Linked DNA regions of Homo sapiens: all the other regions are reported to be linked to region 2. The links are microRNA targets in miRTarBase. Many come from high-throughput screens and were not tested one by one. Region 2 holds a microRNA gene; each other region holds the end of a gene's coding sequence.

Region 1 (5,124 bases), not on the chromosome of region 2:
GCGGGCAACCCCCACGTCTGACCCTCCCACACACACAATGTAGTCATAGAAACACCTAGAGAACCTCGAGCCCCGCCGCGGAAGAGGCAGGAGAGGGAAGAAAAGCCTCGGGCGGCCGAGGTGGGGGTGGGGGCGAAAGGGGACGGCCAGCCCCAGATCCAAACCAGTTCCAACGACAAAAACAGCCAGCGGCGGGGGGCGAGGGGAGAGGGACGGTCTCCCCACCCGGCGGCCAACCCTCCCGCGCACAGTTGCTCACAACAAAGTGAAAATCCGCCCTCCAGACGGACCCATTCCTCCACACCTTTTCCCATGTGTGACCTCACTACCAACAACATCTGATGTTTGACGAGACACATATTCAAAGGGGTCTCTCCAAAGGAGTTAAATAATTAGGTCACAAAACTTGTAGGCATCTAATTCTCACGCGAGTTTACCCCGCTCCCCAAACACCAAACAAACCAACCAACCAAACCCATCTGAAAGAAAACAAAGGCAGCATCTGGGCGACACCCCCCTTCCTGCGTTCCCCCCAGTTATTTACTGGGTGACCCCGTCCTTTCTCTTCACCTCCTCACCCAGCGCCTCGGATTATGAGATAATGGATTTTGCGATTGTTCTTGTCAGGGAAAAAAATCTCCACAGAACCCCACGTTTTCATCTTTCAACTGTTTTATTTAAGCCAATGGGAAGGTATTGAGGGCAGTAATTGATTCATAATGATCCATAAATCGATGTCGGAAAGCGGGGGGAGAGGGTGGAGGTGTACTAAGAGTATGGGGGGGTGGCGATGCTGTTTATTTCTAAAGCTTCAACTAAAGTAGCTTTGACACTGTTGGGGCTGGGGGGGGAGGAGCTGTTGGGCTCTGCCGGATCATCCATCATTCCTGTCACCCAGAGTCTGCCCGGAGGAGCCGTAGACGCAATCTCCCTTCTGTCTCTACACCGAAACTATTAATATTAAAACCTCCCTTCAAACACTGCCCCGACGGTCTCCATTCTCATCACAATCTGACCGGCCTCCCCCATCAGACCAGCATTTCCCCCGCGCGGCACTTTCTCCCAGCCCCGGCCCCGACGGAGGGGGCCCGCCCCGGCGCGCGACGCCCTGAGTTGATGACTGCAACTGTAACTGGGACGGGCCCCCCGTGCCCCCATAGTTTGCAATACGTTGGTCTAACTCTAACACACGCGCCCAGGGAAGGCCAGGTGAGGGCCAGGGTAGCCCTCTGCACGCCCCTCTGCCGCGGCCCAAGCCTCTGTCCTGCCTCCTCCTAGGCTCCAGGACGCACGTCTGCACCAACCCCGCTGGGTGGGCGGCGGGGGCTGCGGCCGCGAAGCTGGGGTCACTCCGCGCATCCAGACACCCGGACACCGGACTTTCTAACTGAGTGGCAACTTGTAGCGGAGGTCCAGGCTCCTTATCAAATTGCTGGCCTGCTAGCTAATGGAGAACTTGTGGAGGATCCCTGTCCAGTCCCTTTGAAGGAAGGTCCCTCCTTTGACAGCTGCTAGAGATATTAGCCACATTTCCCTTCCCAAATCTGCTCCGGGTTAACAGGCCCGCGGGGGCGGGAGGGGGTGAGGAGGCAGGAGGATCCTGGTGGACTCTAACGAGGGTGAGAGCTGAGGGGCGTGAGGGGTGCTGACCTAGGGGGTGGAAGAGAGGAGGGGTGGACGGAAGACACAGACTTTCCTGGTCTTTTCTCTCTTTTTCGTTTAAAATGTGGCTTCTTGCTCAATTCCCAACCCTTAACAGATGGCGACTGCAGTTCTCTCAGAATTTCTTAAAGAAAGGGAAACCTTTGGAATTTATTTCTGCTTTTGCTTTTTCATATAAATAAAAAAGTGTTTTTATATTACTCTTGTTTTGGAGAACATAAGCAATTTTATTCAGACTACAGTATTTCCTTTAACACTATATGGTTGTCAAAACACCATTCCCAGTTTCTTTGCTTTTGACAGCTGAGTCTTTCTTAAATATACCCAAATCGGAACTCTTTACACTAAATAGTAAACCCGAGATAGGAGCAAGTGCCTTCCGGGGTGGTGTAAAAAAAGCATTATAAAAATTGGACAAATCTATCACTTCTCTGTGTTATCATGGGGTTGGGGGTGGGGGAGAGCAAGGTAATGCAAACAAATATTACAATTATCATTCATCTCCAAATATTTAAGAAGGTTAAAGTTAACATGATAGGACGTGGGTTTGACGAATAAACTAAGCATGAGATGACTTTATTCATTAAAACCAAGAGTTGAGAGCTCTGGTCTCTAAACTTCAATGAGATAACTTGATAATTGCATAAAACACATCCTAAACACGAGCCAATTGCCAAGGAAACCCTTCAGAATTTACTGAGTGGAAAGAAAAAAAGGTTCTTTTTCCCACCTGATGTGAGAGTTGATTTATAATGGGGAATTTTCATAGTTTACATAAAAGTATTTAAAGTAAAAATAGGCAAATATTTAAAATTTACAAAAAGACTTCATGTAAAATAGAATAGCAAAAATGAGAGGGAAGCTATCTCTCTTTCCCAAGTGGCACTGAATTTCTCTATTAAGTTAGTTTGTGTCAGAAGCATTATTTCTATGTTTAAACAGCAACACAACACTTAAACTGAAATGTATTTGTAAAAATTCTACCTGACTAAATATAACACAAAACAATAGAAGTGTATTTCCTCGTTCATTTATATAGAACCTCCATAAATGCTGTCTGAAATGGAAAGATGGAAGAGCCCCAAATAATAACTATGGATTTCTTCCAAGTTTAAGTTTGCAGAGATGATGAATAATTTCCTTAGCCGGTTGACATCACATATCTAGCCAAAGTATATGACATTATTCTTTCTAAACAAAGATTCAAAATTTAAGAGTTAAAAAATTCCAGGATAGTATATTTATTTGAAAATTGAGGGGACATGCCTCACCCTTTTTGCACACTTTAGCAGACATTGTTTGTGCAGTATCAATAAGCTAATGGTATAGATTTCCAGGAATGTTGCATAAAATTTTGAAAATGGCATTATACCGTCCATTTTGTTTTGTTTTGTTTTCAGAAAAAAGTTTAAGTTTAGTTATCAAATCATCACACTAGCATCCCTGCACATGGATGTGTCTGAAATAAAAATATACCACAATATAATTTATAAAATATTAATGATTAAGTAATCTTTTAAAGTCAGAATTTCAAACTCCATAGAAGTTGTTTACTTATCTATGAACACCCATATGTAAATTTTCATTTACATATCCAACAATATTGTAGTAAGACAGGCAGAGGAAAAACACAGGCAGATAAATTACCTTTGAGCACAGACATTATTTCTTATGTTGTAAAATTAACCCTGAAAAGTCCTTTATTCTGGCAGAGGATGCCCATGAAAAGCTTTATCTGAAAGTATATATTTTTTAACGTCATGCATCTAAAAAGGAGGTTGAGCATGTTCAAGGGGATCTTTCAACCTGGCTCATCATGTACACATAGTTTCGTACCTTTAGAAGTTTTCTGCTGGTGGAACTTATAGGTCAAATAGACATTGAAAGGCTATAGATGATTACCTTAAAAATTATTGATGAGTTTAAAATATACTCAACTGCTGGGGGGAAAAACCTACTTTTAACACTGTATAGAGTTGGCATTGTGCAGTCTTGTCCTAAAACCATTAAAAACGCAAAAGCCTAACAAAAAATCAAAAATGAAATATTTATTACCGCTTTTTGTGACTTAACACCTTTTTTTTTTTAACATAACGTCACAGTCCTCATACAAGTATTTTAATGTAAATTTGACAAAGCTTAAAGGTAACAGCATTTTCTTCTAGTGAGGAACACGTGCTGAGAAAAGAAGAATTCATGGACATACAATACCAATTCCACAGCAGATCTGATACTAGCAAAAACATTCTTTTTTTTTTCAATTGAGGTAAACACATAGAATATCTAACATGAAACAATTAATAGACCGAACTCTGTACGAAGTTTGTTACAGTATTCTCTTGCTCCTTTTTATCCCCCAAGCTTTGAGTTTCTGATAAAGTCCTAGTTATGGTTCAATGACCATTAATAACTTTTTTTTGTGTTGAGGAAAGCTGCCCAACTTAAGATTGTTTTGTCCACAACCAAGGCTCAGAACTCCTGGAAGAAGCTCCTGCTCTGTCTTTAAATCTTCATTGGCAAGCTCTTTGAAGAAGAGTCCCCCAAAAATAATAATAAGAATTGGCTTATGAAGCACGAACTATAAAGATCTGTTTGAAACTAAAGGACACATTTATGGAGGAACAAAGGCCGGGCATGAAAACACATTCTTGAAGCTGGAGTTCGAGTGATGAGGTTCAGCCAAAAGTTCATCATGATCTCCAGTGTGGTTCTTTTCTCATTGGCCCAACAGGTTTAAAATATATACCACAGTCTCTCCTGGATGGTGAATTCACTGATGAACCAAAACAGTCATTCTTTTGGGAACAACACACATAGTGTGGAAAACAAGGATATATTTTTTTTTCTCTTCTAAAACTATTTGAGGCAACATAACGGCGTGATCAACAGAAATGTACAAGTTTAACTTAGTTCCTATATTTATACTACAGTAGTTATAACTCTCGGAGTCTTTTTCCAGAGGATCTTTACATGGACAGAATTGTCTCAGTCAGCCCATGATTTCACATTTGTGTTCTTGTTGCATTGGTCCTCTGTTGCTTGATGAAAAATGACAAAAGTAAAAAATAATCACAGCTGTCTGGAATTTCATATTAAGTGTCAACATCTGGTCAAAGTTCAGAAAGTCTTAAAATAGTTTTTGCGTGTGTTTCCTTTTCCCTTGAGTTCCCTTATACTATTGGGCATGAATGTCCATAACCTGTCCGCCAACATTGGGATCTACAGAATTTAACATTGTGGGGCTCTGTGCTGACATAGTCATTCCAGGGTGGGTAGGGGGTCCTCCGTGCATCATCATGGCTGGGTGGTGGGGATGGCTTGGCAAATATGAATGCATTGGGGGTCCATGTCTTAATTGAGTAGGGTGTGGGGTCATCTGGGGAGGAGTGTAACTTGGCTGTGCCATACTCATTCCCATAGGACCACCCTGAGAAACGTAGTCCCCTGGCATGCTCTGCAAAC
Region 2 (5,124 bases):
AGGAGAACACTGCCAGGCACACAGACATCCACTCATGGGCAAGGCTGGGGGACCAGCTGCCAGTGGCTGGAAGATGCCAACTGTTTTACTAGGAGTTTGGTCACCAGTTGGGCAGGGAGCCGTCCTAGTAAGCTATCCCCTTTGGAGTCTATTATGAGTGCAGCCATCTGCCTGAAAACAGAGGGAAATACCCATGGTCTGAGGCTGGCACTGCCTCATCACAGCCTGTGGCTGCGGGGCCAGTAAAGCACTGATGGAAGGGCACCATTATGGACCCACTCCCAGAGGCCTGGTCCCTGCCATGTTAGGGGCAGTGCCGAGGGCCTCAGAATGCCCCTCTCTGTAAGGTGGGAAAGGGAACTTCTCCAGGCTCGAGGATTTGCTCTGTGTTAAATGGGATCTTTGTATGTCCATGCTGGAGAGGAACAGCCATTTGAATAATGCTTTCTCTCTTACTCAAGTTCTTTCTACTAACAGATGAAAGTCTGAAAGGGAGAGTTTAAGCAAATTTCAAGTCCCTATCAAATCACAGTTTTTAAATGTTCTAATTCAAGGCAATGGGGTTGTCCACAGCTGGGAAGGTGGGTATTACAGCAGTACAGTGCAGCCATTCTGGAATCAGATGACCCTGGGTAAGTTAGCTAACCTCTCTGAGCCTCAATATCCTCATCTGTAAAGTGGGACTTTAGATTTTGTGAACATTAAACAAGGTAATGATGTGAAAACAGTTCACTGCCTGGCCTATAGCAAGCACTCAATGTATGTTAAAAAACTACTAAGCAATGGTTGGGCTCCTGGTTCTGAGGGGTAACCTCAGATAGACGAGGTAATAAGAGTCACACCTCATGATGGGGGCCCAGGGCTCAGCTTCTAGTTCTGAGCTAGGCTAAAGTTCCCACCTTAGCTCTCTCTTGCAGAATAGGACAAAGACTCCAGGACAGGAATGAACAACACAGTCTTCTGGTTACACTGGGTCTAGGATTTATCAAGGAACAAGCAAAATAAGAGGTACCAAGATCCCTCTCTTTATTATCAGAGATAGCAGGTTTCCACGTCCACACACACTCCCCTCCCCTGAAACAGAATTAGCACCAGGTGAGGAGCCCAGCACCTCCACGTTAACTGTGCTTTGCAGGTCAAGGAAACAGACTGGACTTTAGGTTTCATGGGGTTCAGGGACTGTGTTTTCATAAAGTATGGGAATGAGGTTCAGAAGGAACCTTGGGTTAAACCCAAAGTCTCAGACTCACATGAGTTTCACCCATTCTCATGCTGACGTTCATTTCAAATAAAGTGAATACCAATAAAGGTGGTGGTGGGAGGGGTCGGGGGTCACAAGCAGTAGGAATTCCCCTTTGGGTTAGCTGCCACTTGGAAAAATGACCTTGGGTTGGGACTCTCCCATGAAACCATGGGGCGTATGCCTTGGGTATACTTGTTCCCTTCCAGTGGAAGAAGAGACACAGTAGTTTCTGAGCTTGAACCTAGTTATTACTCCTTGTCTGACATCCAGACTAGATTTGGGGGAGGGTGACTCCATTTTGGGAAAGAGATGTGGATACAGATCTCTTTCCCCAGGGTGCTTCTCCAGACCCATTTCCCTCTGTATCTGCATCCTTTGAGACTCCTACCCTCCTGCCTTTGGTGAGTTGAGACTGGGAGAGGTGGGTCTGGCAGGTGGTGGGCTGCGGTGCTCCAGAGCAGAGGAGAGGTGTCCAGCGGTGGTGGCGGCGGTGGCGGGCCATGCTGCAGGAGAGCACGGTGCTTTCCGCGGTGCTTGACAGAACCATGTTCCGTTTCCATCGTTCCACCACATGGTTAGATCAAGCACAAAGGAAAGCCCCGCAGCGACTGGTCAGAGTCAAGGTCAGGAAGCAGCGTCAGAGAGAGGACAGGAGCGCTCAGAGGAAGCAGCGTGGAGAAGCGGAAGCCGGAGCAGGCCCCCACTGAGCGTGATTAGTATCAGGAGTGGGGTTCCACTGGAACACTTCCGAAGATTGCAGCCCTGCTGCCCTTGTGCCCCACCCCAGGGAGACACAGTAGGAAGGGAGAAGAACGGGAGGGAAATCACTGGATGCCCATACTCGGGAGCTTCAGGACAGCATGGTTCCTTCCCAAGGAAAGAAAGAACACTCAGACATCTGTGATCCTATCACATGCCTGAATTGAGCCTCTAAACTCCATTCAGTCACACCAGTTGGTCTGACAAGACATTAAACTTAGAAAAGCATCTTCTGCATGCTTTGCAACATAGGCCCAATCCCCCCAACAGCTGAGTGGTTCCATCACAGTCATTCCTCTAGCCCCTTAAGTCAAGAGACAATCCACAGTTCCCAGTGGTCTAGCAAACCTTCAATGCTGTTCTTTAGGAAAAAGCCCCCTTTGACATTCCACAATTCAGGAGTCTCCTTTATATCCTTTGAGGTCAGCAGGAATGCTCTGGCTGATAGACACTCATCCCAGATCATTTGAGGTTTAATAGAGGAGCAGTGGGGTGTCAAAAGAAAATATATCTCTCTAGCCAGAGAGAAAGACAGGAAAACAAATGGGGCCGTAGGGTTTGGACTGAGGAACCTGCAATCATAGTTGTTGTTTGAGAACACTGACTTTCACAGAGATGGTGGCCAGTGCGCCTCCTGATGAAGGGCCTCTTTGAGACTAAGAGAAGGAAGGAAAGGGAAGCCAAGTGATGAGTCTGAGGGGAAGACACTGAATTCTGGGGTCCTTCTTGATTTCTTGTTCTCTTCCTTAGCTGGAAATTATGGGAGCGAACAGGATGAACCAATAACCACTGTCAGGATGCCAAAGGCCCAGGTGAGGGTACCCAGTTTTTATATTCCTCTCTGTGATAGATCAGGGTCAGTTTCCATGAACCTGCTGACTTGGGACTTCCTCCCACTTGGCATTAGGCTGGAGATGTGCATCTTGAAGAAACTGGAGCTAAGGCTAAGTGACTGAGACCCTCCCTGCCTGACCTCTGACATGAGAACCAGTATCAACATTCTTCCACTATGTGTTTTTGGGACTGGGCATATCCTCTAGATGGTCTCAGCATCTCAACGGTGCATAGGTTGTCTGCCATGTTGGACCAGTTAGGAAGAGCCAGCCCACAGCTCTGGGTCTGTCTGGCCTCTCCTCCTTCCTAAGGTCTCTCATCACACGCACTAGAGTCAGCCACTAGAATCTGGACTCCACTCTGCTTTGACACCTATGCAGGGCTCTGTGAACACTGTGGTTCTGGGACTTCAAATGTGAGTTTGATTAGGACCCTGGTACAAGAGCAGGGGAAATCCATCCTGTTCGTGCAAACCGCCACCCTCACCAAGCCTTAAAATCTAATTTTCTTTCTCTTTGGTTTCTTCCTACAAAAAGAAATGGAGGGATTTGTAGGTAAATTATCAAGAGTCTTCACAGTATGTCAGAAGTCCTGGGTTTCAGATCTTGCCCTAAAAATAATACTCAATACCTTAGATAAGATTTTTCTGCTGTGTGGACCTCAATTTATCCATCTCTAGAATAAACTGGATGACCTCTAAGGTTTCTAAAAGTTCTGTAATTCCTTGAGAGCTATCTTGCTGTTCGCCGTCTTTGGACACTTTGCGTCACCACCCTCTGTACTTTTCAGCAAGAGAGTTTCTTCTCACACAAAGCGGGGAGGCATGAAGGAAGACAGACAGCACCCTGCAACTGCCAAGTGCTCCCAGGGATGGGCTTGGGGTCCCAGGCAGCCAGACGGAGCCTTTTCAGGAGGACTTAATCTGATGGTCAGATTACCCCAGCCGGCAGCATCCAACCCTAAACTGATCTTGCTGCCCAAGGCGGCGGATGCAGCTGATAGAGAGAGGCAGACACAGGCAGCTGGGAAACCAGACGCCCTGCCTAAGGAGGGGCAGGATGTGTTACGGAGCAGCCCTCAAATTGCCTCCTAATTACATCAGCTGTCTTTTCAATGGGGGTGCTTTTAGGAAAAAGTAAAACGCAGAGTTATTATCTGTCACATCCAGTCTGTGTCACCTGCCCCCCTTCTTTCTTCTGGAGCTTCCTGGAAACACAGAGCTTTACATCTATGGTTTTTCTTTCCCTCCAAGGCCAAGGCAGGTCTGGAACCCCATGTTTCTCAAAGCCAAGGCCTTTGGAGCTCAGCAGTCATGCTTTCTTTGCAATGACATAAAATAAAAGCAAATAGAGTGCTACGTGTCAGTCTCATGCTAGCTCCAAACATCTCTACTTTTTAGGAATAATCTTTCGCTTAGCATTGTTTTTTTTTTTAAAAAAGGTATCTTAGAGTCAATCCAAGAACCTGGCTCCTTCTCCCTGTTTCTTTTTTAAAATGTTCAGCTTCCCCTCCCCCACATAGGAAAAGCAGCCAGGATCCTGCAGATCTACAGGTAGGACGATAGTGGCAGAGCTAGAGTTAGAACTAAGCTCTACTGCTTCCTAGGTCCACTTTCCATTTTCCTTTTCTCCTACTTAGTTCTTTCTATAGCCCCACCCCCACCTTGCCACCCCCAACCACAGTCATGCCCAGAAAATTGCCAAGACTGTGTTCCTGGGGAGATACCAGTCCTTGGATCCTGCACTCTTTCCCTGCTGTGCCACGCAGGGCCGCCACATCCATTTGGGGTCCAAAGTACTAACAGGATACTTATGAGACCAAAGGGTCAAGGTTGGCAGATAATACCCTGCCCTCCTCTGGCTCTCACTGTCCTTCTTTTTGGGTACCACTGTTTGGCAGAGCTAATTAACTCAGCCCTGGCCAGACAGGGGTAGGAATAGAGGCCAAGGTTGGCGTGAGTCATGAGGAAAGGTGCTGGGGATAGGACGATTGTGCTTTGGGTGAGATTTTCTTTCCAGAGATGTTGCCAGGCCCAGGAAGGAACCTGAGGACAGTGTTCAGGGAGCGGGTAGGGGTGGGAGCATGAGACCAGGGAAGGAGGTCATCCAAGCAGCTGATTGTCATCCCCAAATATTCCTTCTCTCCCAGATGCTGTGTGGTGTGAGGACCAAAATGAACCTGAGGTTTAGTCCTGCCTCCGCTGTTTGCTGGCTTGTGAACTTGGAGTGCCCCTTCACCTCTAAGTCCTCAGTTCCCTCTCCTATAGAGCAAAGGGCTCTCCTACTGAC
Region 3 (5,124 bases), not on the chromosome of region 2:
ATGCTGCCCTCTTGACACACTGCTGGAGCCCAGAGCACAGGCCAGAGTCTCAGCCTGAGCCCCTTCCCCAGGCAGTACCTGACAAGGATACCTGGGATTGGGGCCAGCTTTCCAGTCAGATGCCACGTTTCCTTTGCCCACTGCCACGGGGCACTAGGGCCTGCCGCAGGCTCTCCCATGAGGGAGAACGACCTCTGCAGGCCCCTCTGCCTTCCTCCTTCCTAATTGACCCTTTCTCTGGCAGGTGAGGTGATAAAGCACGGGGACCTGAGATGCGTGCGCGATGAAGGAATGCCCATCTACAAAGCACCCCTGGAAAAAGGGATTCTGATCATACAGTTTTTAGTAAGTTCACTATGTTTCATTGTCATGGACATATTATTAAATGCCTTAATTGGAAGGGGAAAAAACAGCCACCTTTCTTTCCCACCTCACCCTTTACAGGTAATCTTTCCTGAAAAACACTGGCTTTCTCTGGAAAAGCTTCCTCAGCTGGAAGCTTTACTCCCTCCTCGACAGAAAGTGAGGATTACAGATGACATGGATCAGGTGGAGCTGAAGGAGTTTTGTCCCAATGAGCAGAACTGGCGTCAGCACAGGGAGGCCTACGAGGAGGACGAAGACGGGCCCCAGGCTGGAGTGCAGTGCCAGACGGCATGACGTGGTGCGGGGCAGCGTGGCCCCACCGGACTAGCACATGATGAATGTAAAGTTGGCACAATGAAAATGACATCGCTTTAATGGCCTTGTGTTTGGGATGTCCTGTGTATGTGTTCAGCATTCTTAATTGCTGAGTGTCTTTTTGGCTTTTCTTTTGGTTGTAACTTAAGTTATAGCTTAATTTATATTTAAATGTTTTAAGTATAAATCACCTCTAGTCTGCATATGGAATCTGTTCATTTCTATTTTCAGGATATACTTTTGAGATGTCAGTGATTGCACCAATACTTTGTGCTTCTAGTGGCTTTGCCATAATTCAGTGTCACCAATAAGGCACAGCCCAGTTAGCAGCTTAGCCCCCCTAGCAAACCCCAAGGCACAAAGTGGGCATCCTGACTCATCTCTAGGTCTGTGGTTTCTCCCCTCTTCCCTTGGCAGAGTTATTGAGGGCATGATCTCAGGGCTGCTAAGATAACATTTCTGAGGATTCTAGATGATCCTCTTAAAGAATAAAAGCACATCCGTGGATCGGACATGGCTGCATGTGCCTGCTTAACAGGGCCAACTTAGTTCCTACTGTTCTGTGCCCTTCAGTGGATGGAACGTGAGTGTCTGATCATCTCTCTTGGAAGTTTTCTGAACCTTCCAAGCTCTGTGGTGAGGACAAACCAGTGTTTGAATCATATGCTGATAACTGTTTGCCTGTGACCCTCACACCTTGTTCTTCAGGGTTTTAATGATTTTCTGTTGACAACTTTTGCAATGCTTTCCCACCAAAGTGCTTACTTGTAAAGAAAACTAAATCCTTCTGTGTCCCCGGCAGCCTCAGTGCAGCAACAGAAGCCAAGGGAGAATGCTGCTGGTTTGGCCCATGGCACAGCCAGCTTCTCTGACCAGTAATCCGGGGTGACTTGAGGGTCTGCAAAGGCATAGAACTCCCCAGTGTTTTCCACCTCATTCTCCCAGATTGAGCTCCCTTCCAAAGGATCGTTCCTCTCATTGCACAGCCATATTACAAAGGGTTTCCTGCTCAAGTGATGTTTTGGTAAGAACTTCGCTGAGTTCCACTGTGGATTACAGTTTGTATGGACTACTACTGTAAATTATAGCTTGTTTGGAGGGATATTAGTCATTATTTTATTCATGACAGGTAGACTACAATTCGAACTTAGGGTTACCTCAGTCTTTAGCCATTACTGCTTATTTCTTTTCCCCAAGTCACAAAAAACTTGTAAGCTGCTGGGTTAAAGCAGAGGCCACCTGTCAGATCTACCCTACCCTTATTTGGTTACATGGCACCTGAGAGTTTCACTCAGACCAGGGATCTTCCTTAGGAGGGTCAAAGTGCAGATCAGACCATGCAGGTAAGGTGAACCAGCTGCACGGACCAGGTTCCCGCAAAACATTGCCAGCTAGTGAGGCATAATTTGCTCAAAGTATAGAAACAGCCCACCTGTGCCCACTTTGACCATTGGTGAGGATAGATATAAAATCACTTCTTCCAACGAAGCCTAGGTGAAAATCTATTTATAAATGGACCACAACTCTGGGGTGTCGTTTTTGTGCTGTGACTTCCTAATTATTGCTAAAGAACTACTGTTTAGTTGGTAATGGTGTAAAATTACATTCAGCTCCTTCTTGTCATATAAAAGGAATTTGGAGGGTGTCGCTTAAAATTTTATTCCACCTGTACATTTGTCACTTTAAAATTAAAATTGAGCTGGTATGAGAGATAAGTGGCTTTGCTTTTTCCTTTTTTTGAGAGCTCACATAAACAGTGTTAGGTGCCTGCCAGCTTGCCTCTCATTGGTTGACATAATGGAATGAAGTTTCCACCCTCATGGAGCTTTATTTTGGGGGTGGGGGTGAATGCAAACAAAAAGTGGTAACTGCTATGAAGAACAAGAGGAATGGGAATGAGTAGAAGGGAATGGGAAGAAGGCCTCTACCAGGAGCTGGCATCTGGGCAGAATCCTGGATGCAGCTGGGGAGCAGATGTCCGAAGGTCTGGAGGGAAAACATTCCAGGCAGAGGAATGGCAAGGATGATGTGGTTACAGGAGGGTGAGCAAGGCAAGCAGGAGGGAGAAGTGGGGGGCTATGATAAAGAGTGTGAGCTTTATTCTGAGGGCAGTGAGTGGTTTGAGGAAAAGCACATGACCTGACTCATAAGCATATGAAGTAATGATCAATAAAAAACACGCTTCCAAGTGTTCAGCTACTTACATCTTTCTCATTAACATGAGTCTCAAGGGGGCTGATGAAGAGGAAACTCTGAGGTACAGATACTCTGAAATAACTAAGGCAGGGCTACAGTTCTACAGCATGAGGCACAGGCTTCAGCCTAGGCATTGTTAAGGCAGCAAGAATAGCAGCCTGCCTTCCGATACCCACCTAGCGAGTTAGAGACCTCTCTGAAATTAATAAGGGGAAGGAGGGCTTGGCAGGGGACATCTTTAATACATCAAGTGGAAGGATGCCCAGATAGACAGGAGTACATAATGTTCCTATGCAGTCAAATATACTCTTTCCTTCAGGACTCCATTCTAAAATAGATTAGCTTCTTTATCACAGCTCCGGGGAGCTCGCTGCTGTATCTCACTGCATAAGTCAACTCCCTGGAAGAGTCAGCCTGTATTTCTAAGCTGGAAAGTTAAAGAAATACCTGGATCTCTTGATGGCTAAGGCAGAGATTTGCTCTTAATGCCAATCCCTCTCACTGTTTCACTGGTAATAGGGTAACTGAAAAAAGAAGCATGTTCAAGGACACCAGTGTTTGCATTAAGAAAGCTTTATGTTAAAGTATGAACAGCATTTCCAATAAAACATGAAAAGATTCATATTGTATCTACAAAATTTAAGTCTTTGCTACAATAAATGCTATATTTCTTTTAAACAAGCCTAAGAAGGTAAGGAATGTCATGATCAATCCGTACATTCTCTTTGCAGCATAAGCCTGGAGACTTTGATGTTTAAATTGGACAATCATAGATGTGAATTTCCTGGTCATCTCCAACAGACACAATTTTTGAACCATTTCCATTGTATTTTACTCCCCAGACCTGTAAATTTAAAAAAAGATAGTTCTACAAATGCCTTTATTCTTTATAATATTTATGAAATGAACATCCTTATTTTCTCGTTATTCTGAATCTACCAAAACTGAGATGAGGATGTTCTTGTACTTTCTAAATCAGTGAGAATGGAGGCTTTAACCGAGCACCTTCCATTATTGCTATTTAATTAGAATTCCTGCCCCTTCCCATACTCCAAAAAAAAAAAAAAAAATCATTTTTAAATACAGTACTAATCAAGACTATCTACAACCCTTTCAAAGAGTCAGAATCCTGAAGTGTAACCTAATGCCAGGAAGACGGAAGCCATAAGAGACCAACATTTATGCTTCCAGGAAGAAAGAGCCCCACAACTACCCCGAGGTCACTGCCTATAGGGAAAGTCACAAACTGCGCTCCTCAGCTGACCCCTTGTGTCCGCCCCCCACAGTCAGTAATTCTCACTCTGTTATTAGTGGCCTATGGAGCCTGCCTGTCCCCAGGAGCTAGACAACATGATATTGTGGACCATAGATTTTTATTTGCTATGTGTTAAATTAACTGATTCACACCTCCTTCCCAGACAGAATTGATGTGGTTGGAGTTTCTCTAATCATAAATAACTTCCTGATTATTAGGAGGTGATTCTGGGTGGTAAGCCTGTCACCCTACTCTGATTTTAGTGTTGGGATTGGGCTGCATGATGGCCTTTCACTCCAGCCTCTGACACAGCACCGCAATGATCCATACATACAAGGAAACACAGCTAGCCAGGACTTACTCCCTGAGTAAGATGCTTAAATCCAGAAGTGGAATATCAAGATAGAACCCCCTCAATTTTGTTGGGACAATTTAAGTTGAAAAATAAGCATGAACAATGTTAGTTAACTTTAAGTTCCATTTCAAAGAGGAGAAATCTATAGGACCATCTAAAAATATTTAAAATATATTAAAAGCCAATATTATATTGCCATGGACATTTTATTTTTTATGCTCAGTTCCCCAAGACCTTACAGTGTGGTTAGGACCAGCAGCCTTGGCCTCACCTGGAAGCCTGTTAGAAATGCAGAATCCCAGGCCCTCTGCCAGACCTAGTGAAGCAGCATCTGCATTTTCACCAGGTTCCCAGGGGATACGAGCACACATGAAAGACTCAGCAGTATTGCACTAGAACACCTTTGCTATTTCACATATTCACCTTGGCAAAGATAAAGTTGCTTGTGAGAACAGTTTCCTTTTAAAGACTGAAAAGTTATCAATAACACTAAAGCCAAAAAACTTGTATGAATTTCCAGCTTCTACTATATTAAAAAAAAAAAAATCACATCTCTTCTTTGGACAGTCCCAAAAATGACAAGCGATGATTGTGTTTAAGCAATGGAATCTCCTGAAGAGGAAGGTCCTTGGTGAGC
Region 4 (5,124 bases), not on the chromosome of region 2:
CGTGGGGGGAGGCTGAGGCTATGGGGACTCCGTGGGGGGAGGCTGAGGCTATGGGGACTCCGTGGGGGGAGGCTGAGGCTATGGGGACTCCGTGGGGGGAGGCTGAGGCTATGGGGACTCCGTGGGGGGAGGCTGAGGCTATGGGGACTCCGTGGGGGGAGGCTGAGGCTATGGGGACTCCGTGGGGGGAGGCTGAGGCTATGGGGACTCCGTGGGGGGAGGCTGAGGCTATGGGGACTCCGTGGGGGGAGGCTGAGGCTATGGGGACTCCGTGGGGGGAGGCTGAGGCTATGGGGACTCCGTGGGGGGAGGCTGAGGCTATGGGGACTCCGTGGGGGGAGGCTGAGGCTATGGGGACTCCGTGCCGGGAGGCTGAGGCTATGGGGACTCCGTGGGGGGAGGCTGAGGCTATGGGGACTCCGTGGGGGGAGGCTGAGGCTATGGGCACTCCGTGGGGGGAGGCTGAGGCTATGGGGACTCCGTGGGGGGAGGCTGAGGCTATGGGGACTCCGTGAGGGGTGGCTGAGGCTATGGGGACTCCGTGCCGGGAGGCTGAGGCTATGGGGACTCCGTGGGGGGAGGCTGAGGCTATGGGGACTCCGTGCGGGGAGGCTGAGGCTATGGGGACTCCGTGCGGGGTGGCTGAGGCTATGGGGACTCCGTGGGGGGAGGCTGAGGCTATGGGGACTCCGTGCGGGGAGGCTGAGGCTATGGGGACTCCGTGGGGGGAGGCTGAGGCTATGGGGACTCCGTGGGGGGAGGCTGAGGCTATGGGGACTCCGTGGGGGGAGGCTGAGGCTATGGGGACTCCGTGCCGGGAGGCTGAGGCTATGGGGACTCCGTGCCGGGAGGCTGAGGCTATGGGGACTCCGTGGGGGGAGGCTGAGGCTATGGGGACTCCGTGGGGGGTGGCTGAGGCTATGGGGACTCCGTGGGGGGAGGCTGAGGCTATGGGGACTCCGTGGGGGGTGGCTGAGGCTATGGGGACTCCGTGGGGGGAGGCTGAGGCTATGGGGACTCCGTGCCGGGAGGCTGAGGCTATGGGGACTCCGTGGGGGGAGGCTGAGGCTATGGGGACTCCGTGGGGGGAGGCTGAGGCTATGGGGACTCTGTGCAGGGCCGCTGTGAGGCCCTGAAAGCACTCGTCGGAGGCTCCTGCTTCCTGAGGTCCGTGACTCGGGTCACATGCCGCCTCCAGGAAGCACCCTGGCCCCTGCAGCTCTGGGAACGTCCTCCCGACAGCTCCTGGGAATATCCTGGCACTGAGGTCACTCTGGGCTCCCGGCTGACACTCGTGCCGGAGGCAAAGGTGAGGAAAGGCCGGAGGAATGTGTGGTCTCGGCGCCAGGCCAGGCCTCCCTGTGCAGGAGAGGAGCCAGCAGCTCCCCTTCTCTCAGCTCAGACGGTCTCTCAGGGCTCTCGGGAGGCTCAGAGCAGCTTGGCTGGCAGATTCCAGGGCAGGGGGTGGGCCCGCCTGGTCCCCTCCGTCGCAGCCAGTGGGCGGGAGGCTGGGCTGGTGAGCGTGTGGGCGTGTGTGAGCACACGTGCCCATGCTTGAGACATGGATGCTGGTGTGAGCACCTGACCCCTCACCTCCTTCACTCGGTCTCCTCACGCCCTCTCAGGGACTCCTTCCCCTCCAGGCCTCGGTTACGGGTCACACCTGGCACTGCCAGGCCTGGGGACGTGGTGCGGCCGGTGCGGGGAGGGGCCTTCCAGGCTGCTGTGGGGCCCCCGGCCTCGCCCCACCCCGCCCCGCCCCGTGCTGGGCCATTGCCTCAAATGCAGCGGCTCTGTTGGCCGTGGGACTGGAATTCTTTCCCAAGGGCCCAGATGTGCAGAGGGGAGGCCGGTGCGGGGGAGCAGGGCTCCGGGACGTGCACTTGGGTCTAGCTTTGCCCCTGACGTGCTGGGGCCGCCCCTAGGCCCAGCTCAGTGTGTCCCTCCTGTGCCCAGTGAGGAGGGCGTGCCCCTCGCTGCCACAGGTCCTGGCTGACCACGTGCTGCCCAAGGGCCAATCGCGAGTGCGCAGGTGGGGGACGTGGGGAGCCAGCTGAGGGGGATATGTGGAGGTGTCAGGATGACCCTGGGTTTTTGGTTTGGGCCACTGGGTGGGAGGAGGAGGAGGGGACCCAGAATTGAGAGATGGGGCCTGGGGGGCTGCTCAGAGGGTGGGCTGGGAGGTGCCTGTCTGTGTCTGGCCTGGCCTCCAGACCCTGCCTGGCTGGACCTGCTGTTCGTGCCTGTTTCCGATTTTATCCTCCAAACCAGACGCCCAGCCTGGTGCAAATGCAGGAGTGGAGTTTCCAGGGGGATGTGGACTCCTTCCCTCCACCCCCACCTCGGTCCCTGTCTCCTTCCCTCCGCCCCCACCTCGGTCCCTGTCTCCTTCCCTCCGCCCCCACCTCGGTCCCTGTCTCCTTCCCTCCGCCCCCACCTCGGTCCCTGTCTCCTTCCCTCCGCCCCCACCTCGGTCCCTGTCTCCTTCCCTCCGCCCCCACCTCGGTCCCTGTCTCCTTCCCTCCGCCCCCACCTCGGTCCCTGTCTCCTTCCCTCCGCCCCCACCTCGGTCCCTGTCTCCTTCCCTCCGCCCCCACCTCGGTCCCTGTCTCCTTCCCTCCGCCCCCACCTCGGTCCCTGTCTCCTTCCCTCCGCCCCCACCTCGGTCCCTGTCTCCTTCCCTCTGCTCCCATCTCGGTCCCTGTCTCCTTCCCCACAGGAGGAGTCTGGGGGCTCCCGCGTCACAGGGGCGTGGCCCAGGGCATCAGGTGGGGCGGTGGGTACTGGGCTCAGAGTGGCCTTGGGCTGTCCAGTCCCTCCCTTTCTCCCCAGGACCAGTGACCCTCCCAGCCCCAGGACACTTCTTGGGCCAGGGCCCAGGGCAGAGCCAATGCTCCCCCAGATACTCCCTGGCTGCAAACCTCAGGCTGGGGGTTTTTGGGGACAGGGATGCAGGTGTCTAAGGACACGACCCTCCAGGCAGTGGACGTTTCTGCCTGGGTGGAGGGCACGGTTACGAGAGCAGGGCCCGCGCTCTGGCATCCTGGTGCCCGGGCCCTCTGCCCTCAAGGCCTGTCCTGCCCCAGCTCAGCCCTCTCTGGCCAGGCCCATCACTGTCAGCAAACACCCCCACACTGCTGCCCCCCCAGATGGCCATGGCAGCCCTCCCGGGGCCCGTGTCTGCAGCCCCCACGCAGCCCGGCCGGCCGATGGAAACGCACACCCACACTCTGTCCCACCTCACTCCGAGCTGGGGGTTCGGGGACCACAGGTCCCACCTGCACAGGTTGCATCTGGGGAATGGGCCTGTGGCAGAAAATGTGCGGCGCGGGGCGGGGGGTCCCAACCAGGCAGCCCCAACCTGGACTCTCCTCCACCCCCGTCCCACCTCCTTGCCCCCAGCACACGGTGGCGGAGTGCGTGGGGCCAGCCTGGCGGGGGCTTTGCTCCCCGACCTGCACTTAGAGAACAGAGCATCCTACGGGAGAGAGCAGCTCGGAACGCAGCTTGAGTAATGCCGACTTTATATCAGCACACCCAGTGCCCCCACGTTCCCGCTGGCCCAGGTCCCGGAGACCATGATGGCACCCACAGTGGACTTCGCAAAGGAGCGTGGGGACCCCGAAGGCCAGGCCACCCCTCAGAGGGGGGTCCCATGCTAAAGCAGACGGTGCCGGTGCCGCAGGGCGTCTGAGACCCACGGTGGAGCCCGGGCCTGGCGTGCGGGAGGCGGCCACGACGGCGCCTTTCTCCCAGGAACTCCGGGAGGGACCCCAGGACTCAGCGCCAGGGCAGCCTTGGCAGGTGCAGTGAGGCAGTGACTTGTGGGGGTTAGATGTGGGCCTGCCCCACGTGGGCAGGGATCAGCCAGGCATGGGGGTCCAGCGGATCCGAGCGGGGCCACAGAGCTCTGGAGGACTTTTCTGCACAATGAATTTCTGCTTAAAAACAGAGATCAAGAGGAAGCTCTATCCTGCAGCTCCGGAAATGGGTGGCTGCGTGCTTGGGGTCTCCGCCACGCGGGAGGACAGCCCAGAGGCACCCTGGTCTCAGGCAGCTGGTTCCTAGGCTGTGTCCTCCCCACTGGCCGGGCACCGGCTGGAACGGCACGAGGACCAGCCTCACTGTTCTCAGAGGGGTCTCGGGCCACTGGGTGTGGTGGTGCTGGAGGAGTCCTGCCCGCTGTGGGCTCTGGAGGGCACGGCAGCAGAGCCCCTGGCTTTTCTAGGCAGAGCGGCACCTGCCCCATAGATCGTGCCAGCTTTGGCTGCAGGCGCTGGGGCCTCACCGTGTTTCCTGGGGGGGCCCGGACCCCCCAAGGCCTCGATCTGAAGCTCTGAGGTCTCATGGATGCCTGCTCCTGGTCCGATAAACGAGATGGCTGTGGTGGGGAGGAGCCTCAGGCGGCCCGGGACCCTTTGGCGTCCGTCGCTGGGAGGCGGAGGGACTCAGAGCCGAGGCTGTGCCCAGGACTGTCCCGGGCGCCGGGCGATGCCAACACTTTGTGCTGGTTCCCGCCAAGGGGTCGGCCTCCGGGTCCCTGCCGCCAAGTGCGTGGCGTGGTCTCGGCCTCCAGGTCAGACATTGCTGATACGGGCCTCCCCCGGGAAGGCAGCGGGATCCGTGGCCCTGTCCAGGGGCCGCTCCCGCCTGACGTAGCGCGGCTTCCGTACTGAAACGGGTCAGAGACAGGCGAGGTCAGAGTGGGACCTGGACAGCAGGGACAGTGCAGGCCTCAGCCCTCACCGGAGGCTCTCGGGAGTGGGCATATGGCACAGGCGCCCGGGGCTGTTTACTCTGACCAGGTGGGAACCCAGATGCCCCCTGCCCCTAAGGCGCCCTCAGAGCTCCAGCTCGGGAAAGGGACGGCTTCCTCCTGCCCGGCTGTGTCCTCTCATTTACACCCTGGGCCCCGGGGCCTGGACAAGGGCCAGGCGATCCCCGAAGACAGAGATGTGGGTCCCAGAGTATCATGCACCTCAGGGGGCGACAAGCAGGCCGTAGTCCCAAGACCTCGAATGTGACCTTATTTAGAAGAAGGGGCTTTGCAGGGGGTTACGTCAGGGTCTCAGGTGTGATCGCCCAGGGTTCCCCGGGCAGGCCCTGAAACAACGGCCAGGGCCC
Region 5 (5,000 bases), not on the chromosome of region 2:
GACAGGGGGACAAGGCTGAGCATGGTCCCCAGACGTGCCTTACCCACCTGGCCAGAAGCGCCCTCAAGGCAGACAGCAAGGCCCCCAGCCCCTTCTGCCGCCGCCGTACTTCGGGAGGACCCTACCTACCTTGCCCCACAAGCCTGACCCAACCTCCTTCAAGAAAACACCAGGCCCCAGTGGCACTGCCACCCTTCCGCCCTCACAGACTCCACCGCCCCCTCCAGCACCACCAGCTGCCTCCTCAGCCTTCTGGGCTGCCCCAGGGTCCCACCTCCCCTCCCCAGGGACAGCTCCCAGAGCCTGGGCACACTCAGGATCCTCCCCTGTGTTCCACACCACACACAGCCCCGACGCCCCACGCTCCTCCCAGGGCCAGGCTCCGTGTGCCCCACCCAGGCACCCCCAGGCACACTAACCGATGCCGTCGGGCAGCCTCCGCAGCAGGTTCTGGGACAGCAGCAGGTCAGTGAGCAGCACCAGCCCGCCGAGCTCAGCAGGCAGCTCCTCCAGCCGGTTTTCCGACACGTCCAGGCACACCAGGCGCCGCAGGTTCCCGAGCTCCTGCAGGTGGGCAGAGAGTCAGAGCGCGGATGGGCACGAAGCAGGGGGCCAGCCCCACCCTGACTCACCGGGGGCAGTGCTGACAGCTGGTTCCGGTCAAGCCACAGCTCCCGAAGATTGGGCAGAGCCCCCAGAGTGTCTGGCTGCAAGAAGGAACAGAGAAAATAGTGACTATGAGGCAAAGCCTCCTGCTGCGCCGTGCTCAAGAGACTATACGCCCCCACACCCAGCTCCCACCCGCCTGCCCTCCCGAGGTGCCCCTTGCTGTCGGATCTGCTCGCTGTCCCCTTCTTTGCCCTTGCTTCCGTGGCCCGCCCTCCGGTCTCTGCCCTGTCAGGCCTCCACGCACCAGCACTTCCAGATCGTTGCCTCCCAGATCCAGCTGTTCCAGCTTGACCAGAAATGACAGGGACCTGCAGAGGAAGCAGGGTGGAGGTGTGGCCACGCAGCCCTGGTCCCTGGGCTGTGGCCCTGCCCTGGCTGTTAGGAGAATGCCTGTCACACTCACGCTGGCAGGGACTTGAGCAGGTTCTCCCGGAGCTCCAGGGTCACCAGGTTGGCGAGGCTGAAAGAGAGACCAGGCGCTGGGGCAAGAGGAAGGAAAGCAGTGGCAGCAGGGGCAGGGCCAATCCTGGTCCCCCACCCCACCCTAGTTCCACCTGAGAAGGCACTCACTTGCCCACGTCCCCGGGCAGTGCCTGCAGAGACACATCATTCAGGGCCAGGTGAGCCAGGCTGCGCAGCTGAGTGAAGCCATCAGGGAGCCTGGATGGGAGGAAGCAGAGGCCCTCGGATGACCAGTCCAGGGCTGTGGGACCCATAGCCCCTACCGACCCCACCACAGGCTGCCACCCACCTGGAGAGGGGGTTCCCGCTGAAGTCCGCGATCTCCAGAGCCTTGCAGAACTTGATGCTCTCCGGGATCTCAGGGATATCTGTCACAGAGGGTCACAGTGGACAGATGCCATGGCCTGCAGGCCGTCTGCAGCCCCAGCGGACACTCCCCAGACCCCACCCAGCCCCTGCCCAGGCTCCCCACCGTTCCGGGACACGTCCAGCTCCACCAGCTGCATGAAGTTGGCCACCTCGGGAGGCAACCGCTGGATCTCGTTGTCGCTCAGGCCCAGCTTGCGCAAGTTCAGCAGCCGGAAAAAAGGCTGTGGGCAGGGAGGACACGGACTCTGTGGCAGAGACCACTGCAGAGCAGAGAAGAGCTCCTGGACACGTGAGTGTCACAAGTCAAGAGTCCCTAGGCCTCTGTCTGCTCCAGGTCACACCGGGTCCTGGGGTCTAACCACGACACCCCATTTGCAAAAAAAGGAAAGAAACACACGGTACACACGCCCACTGTGGCTGCCTCCCTCTACTCTTCACACCAGCCTCCACTCTGAGAAGACACCTGCTGGCGACCAGACAAAGCCCCAATCCCCTACCCTGTGTCTTACCTCAGGGCCCACCCAGCCCCTGAACCACTTCTGCCACCCTCCAGGGGCCCACACTGGCCTCTGCTACTGCATCCTGACAACAAGCCTGGCCTGGTTCTGCAGCAAGAACTCAGTAAACGCTCCCCACAATAACACAGTACCACAGGCACAGTGCTACGCGCGAGGCCTGCAGGTGGCCACAGAGGACCGAGCTGTCACTGCCACGGCCAGAACAGGGTCACATTCTTTGGGACACCCAACCCCTAGGTACTGATCACCCAGCACCCCATCTCCAGAAAAGAAATACTTTTTAATCTGCTTTCTCCAGCCTCCTTTCTTGTAGCAGCCTTAGGAGAGCACCTGACCACGAGAAGCAAGGGTAAAGAAAGGGGGACAGCGAACAGATCCGAGAGCAAAGAGTACATCAAGAGGGCTCCCCCACTCACCCCTGCACCCAGCAAAAAAGGAGAGGAGGTCTGGACCCACCTCCAGAGCGGCCCAAGAAGCTAGTACTCATCAGCCACCTGAATCCAAGTTCCACCCTAACCCCATCCACCTCCCTGAATCCCCACGGGTTTCACTCTGAGGCTCCGCCTCCAGGCTCGGTGACAATCGCTATCCCCAGGCAAGCACCTGATGACCGCTGCCACCTGCGCCAGCCAGGGCGGCTGGAAGAGAAGGGTGGGGCTGGCTGGGGTGGGGACCTGGCCAGTGCAAACCAGCAGGGCCGGCTGGAGGCTGCGGTGACTCGCCCGGGCAGATTCTGCCGCCGGAGGAATCACGGGCTGGGGGCGCGCCTTTGGGCGGCAGGTGCGGGCGGCCGCTCACCTTGGGCAGCTCGCGCAGCTGGTTGGCGTCGAGCAGCAGCTCCTCCAGGCTGCGGCTGTAGCGGTAGATCTCCTCCGGCACGGCCTGCAGCGAACAGTGCCGCTTGTCCACCGACTCCACGTGCCGGTTGCAGCGCCACAGCGGGATGCACTTGAGCATGGTGCGGGTGGGCGGCGCGGGCTCCGGCGGCGGCGCTCGGCGGGCTCGGGGCCGGGGGGCGGGGCTCAGTCCGCATGGGCGCCGCGCATGGGGAGGGGGCGCAGGCAGGGGGCGGGCCGCCCGAGACTGGACGGGGACGCGGCCGCGGCCGGCGCTGGGCCCGGCCCGCGCTCGGAACGCTCGGACTGCGGGCCTGGGCAGGGGGCGCGGCCCGGCGGGTCTCAGACTCTTAGGAAGCGCGGGGAGCGGCGGCGGCGGCGGCTCCGCATCCCGCTTGGTCCTGCTCAGCTCGTCCCGCCCGCTCGTCCGCCCGCTGTGCCGCACCGGAACCGCCGCTGCCCGCCGGACTGCCCCGCCGACACCCACCCGGCCGCCGCGCAGCCCGTCGGGAAGCCGAGTCCGGCCCTCGCCGCCTAGCACGCCCGGACTGCGGCCCCCAGAAGGCCCCGCGCGCCGCCGCCTCTGAGGACCCGTAGCGGCACCGCGCAAAGCGTGCCGGGAAGCCGGGCCCGCCCCGCGCGCGGGATATTGGGAGCTACAATCCACGAGAGGCGGCGCCCTCCGCCCTCCGGTCTTCAGCCCGGCCCCTGGCCCCGCGGCATTTGGCCACGAATCTTAACGCACAGCCTCCTCCCGGGAAGCGACCATGCCCGCCCGCCCGCCTTGGACGGCCGGCTCTGCGGCACAAAAGCACTGGCAGCGCGCGCTGTCCAGCGGGTCGCGGTGTCCCGGTGCCCAGCCTTCTCTCAGCACCACCCTGCGGGGACGGCTGCGAGCCCGCGCGCGAGAGCCTGGCGCCCCAGGCAGCCCCGCCCACCCAGCCGCCGCCACCCGCGGGACGGGGCCCGGGGCGCCAACCCCCTGCCCAGGTCTCGCCCACGGCAGGCCCCTCCTGCCAACAGGAAGCAGGTCCAGAGACCCCCCCAACCCTGCCTCCTCGCCCTAGACCCCCTAAGGACACACGCCCAGGATCGGTGACAGGACCGACGGCAGACACACGGACGTTCAGGGCCAGCAGCATCCGCACCTTTATCCGCACTGTAGGCTGGGCTGGGCAGAGCGCGCCTGGCCCCGGGGACACCACTGTATCACTATAAAACCCAGAGGAAACAAGGAACAAGTGCAAGTCCGGGGAGAGGGACCACTGTCACGCAGAGAGGTCACTGTTATCAAAACGCTCCTGGTCGTACACTTCAGCCACCACCTTGCGGCCAGCAAACCAGCGGCCATTGAGGGCCTGGATGGCCTTATGAGTCTCAGAGGCTATGGAAAACTCCACAAAGATCTTGACAATGATTTCTGCATCCTCCTCCTCGCCTTGTTTCTCTTGGTAGATGATGACGCGGTTCACGGCCCCGAACTTGCCACACTCCTCTGTCACCTCCCCTTCCAGGTCATCATCGATGTCCTTGGGGTCCACCATGTTGCGCAGAACCATCACTGTAGACTGTGGGGCAGGGCCGAGGGGAAGACAGCTGAGCACTGCGGCCCCGCCCCCCTACCCTCTCCCCCGCCACCACCCTGCCCCTCTGCCTACCTCCTGCTTGCGGAGCAGCTTCTGCATCACCATGTGTCGGGCGCTACTGCCCGAGATGCTCATGTGCTCCTGCTCGCTCAGCATCTCTGGCCGCTCTGACTCGGGAAACAGCTCCTCTTCTTCCTTCTCCTTCTTGGGCTCCAGGAGACCCAGCGTTGGAGGGCTGGCCAGGATGGGGTTCACCACTCCCACCGAGGGGATGGTGACCGGGATAGGAGGACGGGCTGGGGTCACACCTGCAGGAAAACCAACCAGGTCCATCAGTCACTCCCTACCACCCCCCTTCCCAGAAAGGCACAGAGCTGGCCTGCCCTGGGCTCAGAGGGTTGTGCCCAGACCACCAGGGCCAGGCAGCTGAGGGCAGCGAGCCGAGAGATGCCAGGACAGGAGAGGAGAGGATCTGGTACCACTTAAGACTCACCTGTGATGACTCCAGGTGCCTGGGCAGCCATGACAGCCTGGGGCAAAGTGCCCAGGGGCTGGGCCAG

What was found. Region 2 holds the annotated microRNA hsa-miR-218-5p (UUGUGCUUGAUCUAACCAUGU, at 1,813-1,833, opposite strand). A microRNA usually pairs through its seed, bases 2 to 8, with sites in the 3' UTR of a target mRNA and lowers its output. Matches are read on the target gene's strand: a 7mer-m8 pairs with bases 2 to 8, a 7mer-A1 pairs with bases 2 to 7 and ends in A, and an 8mer does both.
Region 1: miRTarBase lists MEIS2 as a target of hsa-miR-218-5p. The part of its 3' UTR that is shown has no 7-base or 8-base seed match.
Region 3: the mRNA of DNAJA4 is a reported target of hsa-miR-218-5p. Seed matches in the 3' UTR shown: 7mer-m8 at 1,174-1,180.
Region 4: miRTarBase lists C1orf159 as a target of hsa-miR-218-5p. Seed matches in the 3' UTR shown: 7mer-A1 at 4,503-4,509.
Region 5: miRTarBase lists PUF60 as a target of hsa-miR-218-5p. The part of its 3' UTR that is shown has no 7-base or 8-base seed match.

The regions. Positions count from the first base shown.
Region 1 is chr15:36,887,336-36,892,459 of GRCh38, forward strand. MEIS2 (Meis homeobox 2) reads right to left here. Exons shown (of 12, transcript NM_170675.5): 12 at 1,869-5,124. The coding sequence ends at 4,838. Among named protein-coding and RNA genes, the nearest start is that of MIR8063, 83 kb to the right of the region's middle.
Region 2 is chr5:168,766,399-168,771,522 of GRCh38, forward strand. MIR218-2 (microRNA 218-2) reads right to left here and starts at 1,857; the gene lies at 1,748-1,857. The region is part of intron 14 of SLIT3 (slit guidance ligand 3); the gene reads right to left.
Region 3 is chr15:78,279,801-78,284,924 of GRCh38, forward strand. It overlaps DNAJA4 (DnaJ heat shock protein family (Hsp40) member A4), which reads left to right. Exons shown (of 7, transcript NM_001130182.2): 6 at 245-345; 7 at 445-2,391. The coding sequence ends at 660. It overlaps SKIC8 (SKI8 subunit of superkiller complex), which reads right to left. Exons shown (of 11, transcript NM_025234.3): 11 at 3,435-3,721. The coding sequence ends at 3,632. Among named protein-coding and RNA genes, the nearest start is that of SKIC8, 17 kb to the right of the region's middle.
Region 4 is chr1:1,078,316-1,083,439 of GRCh38, forward strand. C1orf159 (chromosome 1 open reading frame 159) reads right to left here. Exons shown (of 10, transcript NM_017891.5): 10 at 3,508-4,672. The coding sequence ends at 4,578. Among named protein-coding and RNA genes, the nearest start is that of RNF223, 6.6 kb to the left of the region's middle. RefSeq lists silencers at 1,737-1,816, 1,877-1,976, 3,606-3,785 and enhancers at 2,184-2,886, 2,887-3,588.
Region 5 is chr8:143,812,398-143,817,397 of GRCh38, forward strand. It overlaps PUF60 (poly(U) binding splicing factor 60), which reads right to left. Exons shown (of 12, transcript NM_078480.3): 10 at 4,934-5,000; 11 at 4,513-4,748; 12 at 3,947-4,422. The coding sequence ends at 4,123. SCRIB (scribble planar cell polarity protein) reads right to left here and starts at 3,376. Exons shown (of 37, transcript NM_182706.5): 1 at 2,817-3,376; 2 at 1,604-1,721; 3 at 1,421-1,499; 4 at 1,240-1,329; 5 at 1,073-1,129; 6 at 914-977; 7 at 633-707; 8 at 420-564. The coding sequence starts at 2,975. MIR937 (microRNA 937) reads right to left here and starts at 645; the gene lies at 560-645. RefSeq lists enhancers at 1,754-2,418, 2,703-3,335, 3,336-3,968.